Homo sapiens: one gene and its partner. The protein of the gene in region 1 interacts with the protein of each later gene in a biochemical or structural test. Each region holds a gene or a part of one and is shown on either strand. Other genes may lie near its edges. The genes, in order: SIGLEC9 and TLR4.

The links.
Region 2: the proteins of SIGLEC9 (region 1) and TLR4 form a complex in vitro, tested with the Homo sapiens proteins (one study listed by IntAct).

The regions. Positions count from the first base shown.
Region 1 is NC_000019.10:51,120,035-51,128,165, forward strand, and holds the start of SIGLEC9 (sialic acid-binding Ig-like lectin 9 isoform 2 precursor), read left to right. Parts: upstream 1-4,871; 5' UTR 4,872-4,940; coding exon 4,941-5,361; intron 5,362-5,562; coding exon 5,563-5,841; intron 5,842-6,046; coding exon 6,047-6,094; intron 6,095-6,995; coding exon 6,996-7,262; intron 7,263-7,914; coding exon 7,915-8,005; intron 8,006-8,131. UniProt on the Homo sapiens protein: Putative adhesion molecule that mediates sialic-acid dependent binding to cells. Preferentially binds to alpha-2,3- or alpha-2,6-linked sialic acid. The sialic acid recognition site may be masked by cis interactions with sialic acids on the same cell surface.
Region 2 is NC_000009.12:117,721,127-117,725,246, forward strand, and holds the end of TLR4 (toll-like receptor 4 isoform A precursor), read left to right. Parts: 3' UTR 1-3,609; downstream 3,610-4,120.

The DNA of each region.
Region 1 (8,131 bases):
GCTCTGCGCTGTTTTCTACCCCAAGTATTACTGGGCAGGATCCGGCCTAGCTCATGGTTACTGCCAACAGGATGAAGCCACTCCTGGAAGGAACACTCCAGTGGCTACAAACAACCCCAAACAATTGCAGGAGAAGAACCAGGGCCAGTTCACCTCGTTGGTCATCCCCAGACCTACAGCTGCTCCCTGAACCTCAGAGATGCCAATGAGGCGGATACAGGGACGTACTTCTTTCAGGTGGAGAGAGGTTATTACATGAAATACAGTTACGGAAATGAGAAGTTGTTCTTGCATGTGACAAGTAGAGGAAAGTCCCAGAAAAGGAGCTCTTTCTCCTCATTCGGGGTCATGGGAAGCATTCAGGGGCCCTGGGGTGGGGCTCTGGCACAGGGAGTGCCCCCACTCCCAGAAACAGGAATCAGCCCCTTTCTCTTTTCTAGTGCTGACCCAGCCACCTGAGATCCATGTCCAGAAGAGCTGCAATCAGGTGACCCTGGAAATCTGACTTGCACCGTATCATGGGCCGGTGAGAAGGGAACCCCACCAAATTTCTTCTGGATAAGAGAAGCCACCAATTTTACAGTCTCCAAGACCCCTCTTCCCGACCAGTCCTCAGTTCTCAGCCTTATCCCACAGCCATGTGACCATGGCAGCAACCTCACCTGTCAGGTGAAGTTCCTCCGAGCTGGTGTGACCATGGGGAGAACCATCCAGCTCAATGTCTCTTATGAGTGGTGGATCAGGACCCCCATGCCCAGGGCCCTGAGAACAATGGGTGTCAGGAGGGAAGGGAGGTCAGAATCAGGAATTCTTTTTTTTTTTTTTTTTTAAGACAGAGTCTCGCTATGTCACCCAGGCTTGAGTGCAGTGGCGCAATCTCTGCTCACTGCAGCCTCCGCCTTCCAGGCTCAAGCGATCCTCCTGCCTCAGCCTCCCAAGTAGCAGAGACTACAGGTGGCACCACCATGTCCAGCTAATTTTTAAATTTTGGGCAGAGATGGGTTCTCACTGTGTCACCCAGTTTGGTGTTGAACTCTTAGGCTCAAGTGATCCTCCTGCCTCGGCCTCCCAAAGTGTTGGGATTACAGGCGTGCACCACTGTGCCTGGCCAGAGTATGAGTTTTTTTGTTTTTTGTTTTGAGATGGAGTCTCGCTCTGTCACCCAGGCTGGAATGCAGTGACATGATCTCGGCTCACTGTAACCTATGCCTCCCGAGTTCAGGTGATTCTTATGCCTCGGCCTCTGGAGTAGCTGGGATTACAGGCACCTGCCACCATGCCCGGCTCACCCTTGCCTGGCTCAGCTTTGAGCTCTGTCTTGATGCCTCTCCTACTTTCTGCCCCTTGATCCTCCTCTTATGCATGGCGTCTCTCTTCCCCCATTTACCCCATTCAGGATGCAGCACTTCCTCCAAATGTCACCCTTTTCATCCACTGTACTCATGAGCCAGTGGGTGCTGTAACTTCCCTTCCTGAACAATGTCTCCCGTCATGCCCTCCTTGCTTAGTCCCCTGTCCTCCATCAGCATGACCAGGCCCTTTGCTGTCTTTTTTTTTTTTTTTTTTTTGAAGATGAAGTTTCGCTCTTGTCGTCCAGGCTGGAGTGCGGTGGCAGGATCTCGGCTCACTGCAACCTCCGCCTCCTTGGTTCAAGTGATTCTCCTGCCTCAGCCTTCTGAGTAGCTGGGATTACAGGAGCATGCCACCATGCCTGGCTAATTTTTGTACTTTTAGTAGAAACAACTTTTCACCATGTTGGTCAGGGTGGTCTCGAACTCCTTGACCTCAGGTGATCCAACCGCCTTGGCCTCCCAAAGTGCTGGGGTTACAGATCTGAGCCGCCGCACCCAGCCTCTTTGCTGTCTTGATCATTGTTCCATGCCCCTCCCCAGCCTCCCATCTTCCCTTCATGCTGTGCCCCTGATAGCACAAGCCCAGAAAGACCTTCCTGTACCCAGTACCAGCCCCACCCCTTCCTGGCCCAGAGTCCCCTGTGACTCCTCGGCACCCTCAGTCTAAGCTCCTCAGCTGGTCATGCCCCAACACCTCCATGTCCCCTTGGAAGACCCCAGATATATGTGCAGGTCTCTTCATCTGCCAGACTGTTTCAGAGCCTTTGCACATCCCTCGTCCTTCACTTGTGATGCCTGTCTGTCTTGCGTCAATATGACCCACTCCCCCTTCCAATCTCAGTTCAGCCTCCTTCCCTCCAGGGTCTGTCAGCTAGCGTGGACTCCGGGATTTGTGTACATAAGAGCATGAGCCGGGCCAGGCTTGGTGGCTCACGCTTGTAATGCCAGCACTTTGGGAGGCTGAGGTGGGCAGATCACGAGGTCAGGAGTTCAAGACCAGCCTGACCAACATGGTGAAATCCCGTCTCTACTAAAAATACAAAAATTAACCTGGCGTGGCGGCACATGCCTGTAATCCCAGCTACTCAGGAGGCTGAGGCAGGAGAATCGCTTGAACGTGGGAGGCGGAGCTTGCAGTGAGCTGAGATCACGGCACTGTACTCTAGCCTGGGTGACAGAGCAAGACTCCATCTCAAAAAAAAAAAAAAAAAGCATGAGTCAAACAGTCATGTGTCTTCTGTCTCATTCCGAATGGGAGGTAAGGGAGAAACCGACCTCTCAGCACCACTCTTCCTGCTTTCTCTGTTTTTTTCGTCCAGCCCCAAAGACCCTGAACAATGGTACACCACTGCCTGTCCTGGAGGGAGAGTCCCTGTGGTCTGTGTGGCTGACAGCACCCCACCTCCCAACCCCGCCCGGCTGAGCTGGTCCTGAGAGGGAAGAACACTGAATTCCTCCCAGCTCTCAGCACCCGGGGGCCTGGAGCTGCCTCAGATAGGGGCTGGGACGGAGGAGCATTGACCTGTTGGGCTCACCACCCACTGCGATTTCAGCACATTTCCCTGAGCCTCTGTGCAGAGTGAGTTGCAGGACAGCTGCTGAGGCAGGCAGCCTAGTCGGGTGTTTGGGCTGTCAGAGGGGTGGAGGCCTGGGAACAGAATCTCACACGCTTCTACCCTTTCCCAGGAAGCCCCTCTGGCTACAGATGTGTGAGTGAAAAGCAGGAGGGCTTCTGGCCCCTGGTTCTCACCTGATCAGGGGGCCATCCTGGGCACTGGCTTCCCCCCAACCCCCATGGCCTCACCTGGAGCTACTACTCCAGGTGAGCAGGCCTGCTCTTTTCTAGGGAAGCCGAAGGATTGTTCCCCGAGTTCCAGGTGGGGCTGAGCTGTCCTGTCCCGCCTGAGTTAGAATTGAAGTGGCCGATGCTAATCTGAGGCCCGTGTTGGCTCTGCAGGTGTGGAGGGCCCCAGGGGAGCAGTGCTGAGAGGCCTGACTGAGCCCCTCCTGCTCAAGACAGAACTCAGATGTGGACACCCAGCCCTGCAGAACAGATGCAGGACAACACTGTCAGCCATGGCTCAGCCCTTCTGACCATTGCAGTTGAGATGCTGCAACTTCCCAGGGAGCGACTGGGCAAACATGGGGGCCTGAGGTATTCACGGCAACGTGCACAGATGATAAAACTACCTAGAAAAGCATGGAGACCATTAGCGTTAAAGTGAGGCTGGGGCTGCTTCAGGAGGAAGTGGGGTGTGGCTGACAGGAAGTGGGGTAACAAAGAGGAGGTGTTGCGGCATCCCCAGTGTTCTGTTTCTCTAAGCATGTTCATATGTGTAAACCGCTGAGATTTTTTCTTGGGGGGAAGACATTTTTATCTATATGGCTTATATTTCTCCCAAAAATATTTCTAGAAAACTGACATCGGTCTAAGGAGGCTCCACCACACAGGATACTCCCAGTTCCTCCCAGCCCAGCCACACAGTTACAAAAAATCTTCTGCTGAATTCAGGTGCATGTTTCTTCTCCCATGAAATCCTGCCCATCGCGGAGGGTGCATGCCCCGGGGCTGGTGTCCTCACTCCACATCTCCTGTTCACCGGGACCCCTGGGAGCAGAGCTTGCAGAAGCAAAGCCCCAGGGCCAGCTGATCCCTCATGTTCTGGAGTAACCAGGGAAGTGTGGCTGAGCGAGACATCGGTGGTGAAGAAACCCTTCGTGGTGCAGTGAGGAAAGGAGAAATATCTTCCCTTTTGAAATCTGCCCCTTTTCTTCCGAATTTCCTCCCTTCCAAGCCCCACAGTACAACAGTCACAGCCTCAGTTTCCCAGACCTCCTGCGAGCCAGGCTCCCCTCTGTGTCCTTGGCGTGTATCAACACATAGAATCCTCACCTCCACAGCCCCATGTCCCTCTGCTCAGTCCTCCTGAGATTGAACCCCTGACCTACGGGAGAGTGACCCCATCCTGCCTGTGCCCCCCAACTGAAGCTCCTGCCGTGGACAGCTCAGACGTCAGGAGCCTCCATGTCTCCCCTCCGCACAGTGACCCCTTGGGGACAGTGTCCAGCTCTGCTGTGTTGACCTCGTTGTGCAGAAAGGGGGTGCCCACCTCGTGCTTGCTTGGGGGGGATGAGAGGCTGCCTGCTCACCCCACCTGCACCCCCATCTCTCATGGCCCCAAGTCCCACCTCTGAGCTACGCAGATATCCACAGCCTCTGACTCAGGGGTCTGGCCAGATGGGACTCATTTTCACCCTGCAGAAAATGTCACCTAAGGGGAAGGGCATTGAGAGGGAGGCAGGAGGTGGGGTGGGCCCTGCATGGGGTGGGAATCTGGGTGAGTCTGTCTCCCGCTCTGGCCTCAGGGACCCAGGAGTGAACATGGGGTGGTGGACGGTGGATCTCCCAGGGCTGACCCGGGCCTGACAGTGTCTGGGTGTAAAGTTCCTCCTCTGAGGAGGTCACTGTTCCGACCTCGCCCCTGTCTTCCTGTAGGGCCTCCTCTAAGTCTTGAGCCCGCAGTTCCTGAGAGAAGAACCCTGAGGAACAGACGTTCCCTCGCGGCCCTGGCACCTCTAACCCCAGACATGCTGCTGCTGCTGCTGCCCCTGCTCTGGGGGAGGGAGAGGGCGGAAGGACAGACAAGTAAACTGCTGACGATGCAGAGTTCCGTGACGGTGCAGGAAGGCCTGTGTGTCCATGTGCCCTGCTCCTTCTCCTACCCCTCGCATGGCTGGATTTACCCTGGCCCAGTAGTTCATGGCTACTGGTTCCGGGAAGGGGCCAATACAGACCAGGATGCTCCAGTGGCCACAAACAACCCAGCTCGGGCAGTGTGGGAGGAGACTCGGGACCGATTCCACCTCCTTGGGGACCCACATACCAAGAATTGCACCCTGAGCATCAGAGATGCCAGAAGAAGTGATGCGGGGAGATACTTCTTTCGTATGGAGAAAGGAAGTATAAAATGGAATTATAAACATCACCGGCTCTCTGTGAATGTGACAGGTAAGGCACAGGCTCCAGGAAAGGCCACAGGGAAAGGTCATGGGGGCGGCAGGGAAAGGCTGGGATGGAGCCCCTGCCCCAGGAGAGGGCTTAGGGTGAAGCGAGTTGGCTCAGGGCAGGAGCTGGACCAGAGCCTGAGCTCCCCCCAGGGCTGCACCATGGATCCTCTGACCTGATCCTGAGTCCCCCTCTCTTCACCAGCCTTGACCCACAGGCCCAACATCCTCATCCCAGGCACCCTGGAGTCCGGCTGCCCCCAGAATCTGACCTGCTCTGTGCCCTGGGCCTGTGAGCAGGGGACACCCCCTATGATCTCCTGGATAGGGACCTCCGTGTCCCCCCTGGACCCCTCCACCACCCGCTCCTCGGTGCTCACCCTCATCCCACAGCCCCAGGACCATGGCACCAGCCTCACCTGTCAGGTGACCTTCCCTGGGGCCAGCGTGACCACGAACAAGACCGTCCATCTCAACGTGTCCTGTGAGTGCTGGGCCGGGACGCCTGGGTCCCTGATGGGGTGAGCGTCAAGCCTGGACACTGGGTGCTGGGTCCCGGAATCTGGGCTGGTGGTGGGGTCAGGAGGACACTGGCTCTGCCTTCCCTGTTTATGCGGCTCCTGGGGACAGACAGGGCCAGTGTCCCCAGCCCTCACAGTGATGCGGGTCTCCATGTCTTTCTGTCCCAGACCCGCCTCAGAACTTGACCATGACTGTCTTCCAAGGAGACGGCACAGGTAGGATGGAGCTCCCTCCCTGGGGCTGGAGGAGCAGGGCCTTCAGGTCAGGATGGGGCTGGCTTATTCCTCAACCTGGACTCACTTTGGCAAACAGGGATGTCCTTGTGGGTGAACTCAGGGCCCCTCTGTATCCTTAGGCCCCAAGGCCACTTGTTCCCATCCTCCCATCACCTCCCTTGGACTCCCCCACACACCCCCCCCTCAGCCTCAAACAAGAAGAGGGTGGCATTCACACAGCAGGACCAGGCTTTGAGGCTCCTTCTCATGTATCTCCTGAATACATCTCCACCCTTATCTGTTTATTTCTGATAGTTCTGATCTAAGTACTTCTGGACAGGTGATAAATGTCCATGGGCAAAAATTCAAATTGCAGAGCAAAGGCTCTCCTCCGATGCCTGCCCCCCTCCCCAGAACCAACCACTGTCCATCCAGGCTGCCCTGAGTCTCGGTTTGTACACCTGGAGGATCTCAGAGGTGGTTTGACGTCCGTAGTGAGACTGTCCGCACCCTCCTCTAGGGCTGTGTGTGAGTCCACTGCATGGATGGACTCTGATTTTGTGGCATCTCCTAATGGAAGATCACGGCACTAATTTCATCCTACGGCAGGATAGAACAATCTTGTATCTACTTCCACAGGAATATCTAAGCCTGTGGGTTAAGTTCCTAAAAGCAAAATGTAGCTACATTATATGTTCTTTCTTATTTTGAAAGATAAGCCCAAACTGTTCTCGATGAAGCGGGGAGAAGTTTACATTCCCAGCAGTGAGTGGTGAAAGTGTGTGTTTCCAGAACTTCAGTCTATGTCTGTGTGTCAGTTGCTGTCATCAGTCTCTTTCTGTATCCTTCCTTTTTCTCCAGATCTATGTATCTCTCTGACCCTCTGTCTCTTTTTCTACAGTATCCACAGTCTTGGGAAATGGCTCATCTCTGTCACTCCCAGAGGGCCAGTCTCTGCGCCTGGTCTGTGCAGTTGATGCAGTTGACAGCAATCCCCCTGCCAGGCTGAGCCTGAGCTGGAGAGGCCTGACCCTGTGCCCCTCACAGCCCTCAAACCCGGGGGTGCTGGAGCTGCCTTGGGTGCACCTGAGGGATGCAGCTGAATTCACCTGCAGAGCTCAGAACCCTCTCGGCTCTCAGCAGGTCTACCTGAACGTCTCCCTGCAGAGTGAGTGCACCAGTATGCTGGGGAGGGGCTGGAGAGGAGAACACACCTCCTCCACCCTTAGTAACTGCTGAGCGTGGACCTTCAGAGAGGAGCTCCGCTCTGGTCTGTGCTCAGCTGTGAGGTCTGGAACTTCCCTGGGACCCACAGCACCACTGTCCTCTTCCTGCCAGGGAAGGGTTGTGGGGTGGGGAGAGGGCAGGAGTGGATCTCAGAGGGGACAGGATGGGGCCGGACAGGTGTGTTTAGGGAGACAAGCGCCTTTCTTTGCAGGGCTGAACTGGAGTCACACAACTGAGATACTTGCTTTGAGCATCAAATTAAAAAAAAGAAAAAGCCCAGCAAGTCAGCAATCAAATGAAATCATATTGCAATGCAATAATCTTTTAAAAAAAGTAAAAATTGAATGCAAAACAAATTCATTAATGGATAAAATATTAAAATTGTGAAAAAAAACCCCAAAAGGAATGGCTGGCACTTGCACGCCTCACTGGCCTCAGGAAGAGTCTCTCCATGTCCTGCTCTCTCTCATTCCTGTTCTTTGTGTCTGGAAAGGGGAAGTGGAAATAGAAGTCTAGGACCCTACAGGAAGTGGGAGGAGAAGAGACCCAATTCTCTATGATATATCACAAAAATAACTCCCATCTGTCAACAGGCAAAGCCACATCAGGAGTGACTCAGGGGGTGGTCGGGGGAGCTGGAGCCACAGCCCTGGTCTTCCTGTCCTTCTGCGTCATCTTCGTTGTGTAAGCATGGACCCTAGAGAGGGAGGGAGGGAGAGCCCTGGGGGAGGACAGGCTGGAAGCTGGATCCCTGAAGCCAGAGCTGGAGGGACCTGGATGGGTCAAGAGCTTGGGGCAAGAAGGAGGTCA
Region 2 (4,120 bases), on another chromosome or scaffold:
TGTTACATGAATATATTGCATAATGGTTTAGTCTGGGCTGTTAGCGTAACCATCAACTGAACAGTGTACTTTGTACCTATTAGGTACTTTCTCATCCCTTAACCCCTTCCCACCTTTCTGAGTCCTCAATGTCTGTTATTTCATTCTCCATGTCCATGTCTACAAATTATTTAGTTTCCACTCATAAGTGAGAGCATGGATGGAACTGGAGAAGAGTATTTTCTATCCCAAGATCGGTTCCTTGATCTTGTGTCTCCAAATCACTTGCTCTCTCTCTTACATCTTTTCTATCTTCTTCTAGCCTCTTTTTGCAAACTTCATTTTGACAAAGAATTCCAGGCAGTCTACAGCTGATTTTATTTCAATACAACGATTAAAATGGAAACCATATATGAAGATGACAAAGTTGAGCAGGTCCCAAACTCTCACTTTTAAACAAATGCTTGGCTTAAGAATCACTTAATGACTTTCATTCTGCTATCTATGTGTCTGTGTATCTAGGTACTAATTATCTATCTTTATGATCTTTATTGCTAGAAATTCTGGTTCAATATCAGAGGTTAGTCCTAAGGAATTTATATTTTAAAATATTCTCCCAGTTTTCGTGCACAGACAGATTTGGGAATTACTGTTATAATGGAAAATGGAGAATAACCACCCACATTTAATATGGTTATTGGTTTTGTTCTTGAGATTTATTGCTAAGATTCATGATAGCCCAGGCAAGGTCAGATAATGTATTTTTATTTTACACTGTATAGTTGATTCTTCTCAATCCCACTAGATCAGACTCTTTGGGATACTAGGATTGGCCTATTTGATGGTGAGCTCACTACATCCATTTAGATGTTGTGTCCATGCAATCATTTTAGTTCTCCTAGTTTCTACCTATCACGTTGTCATTTTCCCTTCTTTATCATCCTGGGTAGCTGAGACCCCACATAAATATATACCAGAAAAATGTTGTGGTCTTTTCTAAACTCTCTGAGGCATCTGTTGTCAATGTGATGTTGTTTTTTGTTTCCAGTCCAAAATATATCAAAGTAAAATTTAACTCCACTTTTGCTAAGTATTCATCTTGCCTTGAGTACTAAGATTCCAAAAATGACTTTCCCCTCTGAAAAACACAGGATTTCCTTGCGAAAACTTGCTGGGCCACTGCCAATCTTCCCAGAAACTCCTTTTTCCTTATCGTTGAGGGGAATTGGGGAAGTGATCACTGACGGTTGAAATTCAGTAGTTTTGGTCTTTAAGCTGAGACCCTGAGTCTTCTGAGGAGTCTACTGCTCCCCAGTGGGAAACACCTGCTGTCAAAATTTTCCTGCTTGCAAAGAGCACTTTTGAAATTAATGGCAGGGGATGAATATCTGGCTAGTGCTGTGCTCAGCTGAGTTATTAATAGGGCCTTCTGAGTCCTCTCTACACATCATCTTTGGCTGAATTAGCTGTGGTTTCAGCACCTGAGAGTCTAGCACCACTAAAGGCAGGGAATACCTTTGCCAGTTTCTGGCATATTAACAGCTGAGATCAGATAAGTGAACAGCGATAGAGGTAGTGAGGTTTAGGATTCAGGTCTGCCACCGGGAGCGCACCTCTGGGCTCAGGTCTCTCATTTGTAAAATGGGACATTTAGGTCAGATCAGCATTTTCAAAAGTGTGACATGTTAGTAAATAAGATGATTTTATGTGGTTGACAGATGAATGTATTACCTTTAGTGGTTATATGTTTATTTTCATGGTTACTTTTATTTATAATAAATTTTGTGACTAGCTAAGAATCAATTATCTCTTTAAAATATATTTAAGTTTAAAATGTGGGCCAACTTAGGAAAAAAACGGGATGAAATGAATTATATAAAAGGTATGCAGATTTGGAAAAATTTTGAAGGTGTCACAAGAAAGATTGGCAGTCAGAAAGGAATGAACCAAACGGCTGCTGAGGGTCAGGCCAGCTCTCTGACATTCTAGCATGTTCACATCTCCAGGGCTGTTTCCTTACCTATAAATTGTGGCAATTGGAGTAAATGTCCATTCCAGGAATTCTATTCTATGATTAGAGGTGTAACTTCATCATCCAGATTTTCCAGCATCCTTAACATGTGGTTTTAGCGTTCTAAACCTGATGATGCTATATCAAAACGGGAGACTCATTCGTCAAGTCATGATGTATCCATGTATTTATAATATTTCCCATGTTCCCTCATTTCTGAAAAGGATTAAGCTATCAACCCCATTGAGTTATAGGTGAAAGGCTGTGGAAACAAGACATTGATAGTGAAATGGCTCCACCACTAACAGGCTGTTGAACAAAGGCAAATCTCTTGATCTCTTTGCTCTTTGGTCTCTGTTTATCTATGAGATAACGTTATTTTTACGCTGTCTTCTGTGAAAGTTTTGAGAATGAAATGAGACAGAGCCTCCAATAAAATTTAGGGAAGTGCTACATAAATGCAAGGAGTTATTATGATAACAGATTGAAAACTCCTCCAAGGAGGAGTTTCTCTTTTGCCCCATGTTATAAACTCAAGAATATCTTCCATTTTGCCTACATATTCCAAAAGCTTTTAAATTAAGCTATATGTCATTCTTACAGGAGTCTCCTCTATTTCAGCAATGTGTATACTTGGTCAGTTTTAATTATCTTAAAGGAGAAGAATACAGTTTCTCTAAACTCAAGCACTTTTGTGGACTAATCCTTGCAATTATTCTTTCTTCTTTCCCATACTTGACATTTAAAGTGATATCTCCCAGGCTCCTACACTGTTAGTCACAGAGGTACCATTCGACCCCTTGTGCCTCTTACCATATGTGAATGCTTGTCAGTTGAGAGTAAACTTTCTTCATAAATTTCACAGTTGTGGATTGATAAAAACAGAGAACTCTGGTTCCTCATTCCTTCCTGCTTTCTTTCTTGAAATGCCATTCATGATGGTCCCTTATATCACTATAGGGCTGCTATCATCCTTCATCCTTATGCCACTGCAAATAGCAACCAACAGTGTCCTTAGTGCCAGCACTCCCAGGCATGCCCCTTTCCAAGCAGCAGGGTCAAGCCGCTCCCTTCCTGAGCTGTGGCATCTGTCTCTAAATCATGCTTCCTCCTTGCCTGCTGCAGGCCCTTGTCTCTGCCCTTTACTTTTTCTGGCTCTTGCCACGGTTTTGAATAAAACTCTTCCAAATATCTGAAGCTCAATTCTGTTGCCATTCTAAGCTCTCTAAATGTCACCACAATCTTCCTTCCTTTGCATTTTCTTATTGTGCACTAAGTTAGTTCTTGCTTAGTAAGTCTTGTCTTTCTCTCTGCTTTGACCTGTCAGTATTCCAACTTCCTTATTTTTTGATGTTCATTTTCTCCTTGCTCTCTTTCTTCCTTTCTTGTCTGTGAACTCCATTAACCGCTTCTGCATGTGACCATTAATGTGCCTGTCTTTCTTCTCATGTATTAGAGAGAACAAAAGCTTTGGGAATCAGACAGATCTGTGTTCTGATCCTGTCTTATGGTATCTGTCTTGTTTGTCTCGGCTTAAAATGGGGATAATATCTACCTCTCAGTTTTGTTGGCAGTTCAGTACACGGAAATAAAGTTCTCACTTTCTTTTTTCTCCTTGAGAGTGTTCTTTATTTTACTCATCTGGCCATCTAATATTTATGAAGAAGCTACTCTGTGGTTGAAAAGGCACATGAAGCTGCAGAAGTAAATGACCAAGAAGTGCCCTCAAAGTTACGGAGTTCAGATTCATTTTGGCAAGAGAGGCATGTCAATACACACACACACACACACACACACACACACACACACACACACACAATGTTATGCCAAAATGCAGGGTGGTGGGGAGTGGAGGGTTGTTCTTCCTAGAAGCAATCAGAGAAGGCTTTACAGAGGAGGGCCCATTTGAGCTGGAAATTGTAAAAGAACAGCTCTGCAGATGGATCTTTAAATTCTTAACCTAAAAGAAGAGCAAAAATGTAAATGATAAATCTGGGAAGTAATAAGTAGAAGACCATGTATAGCAGAGTTGAGGAAAGAAACAATATAGTATAAATACTGAATTACATGAAAGCTAATAGTTAATTGGCATCAGTTGACCCTGACAAAGACATTTATCTGGACTATGTC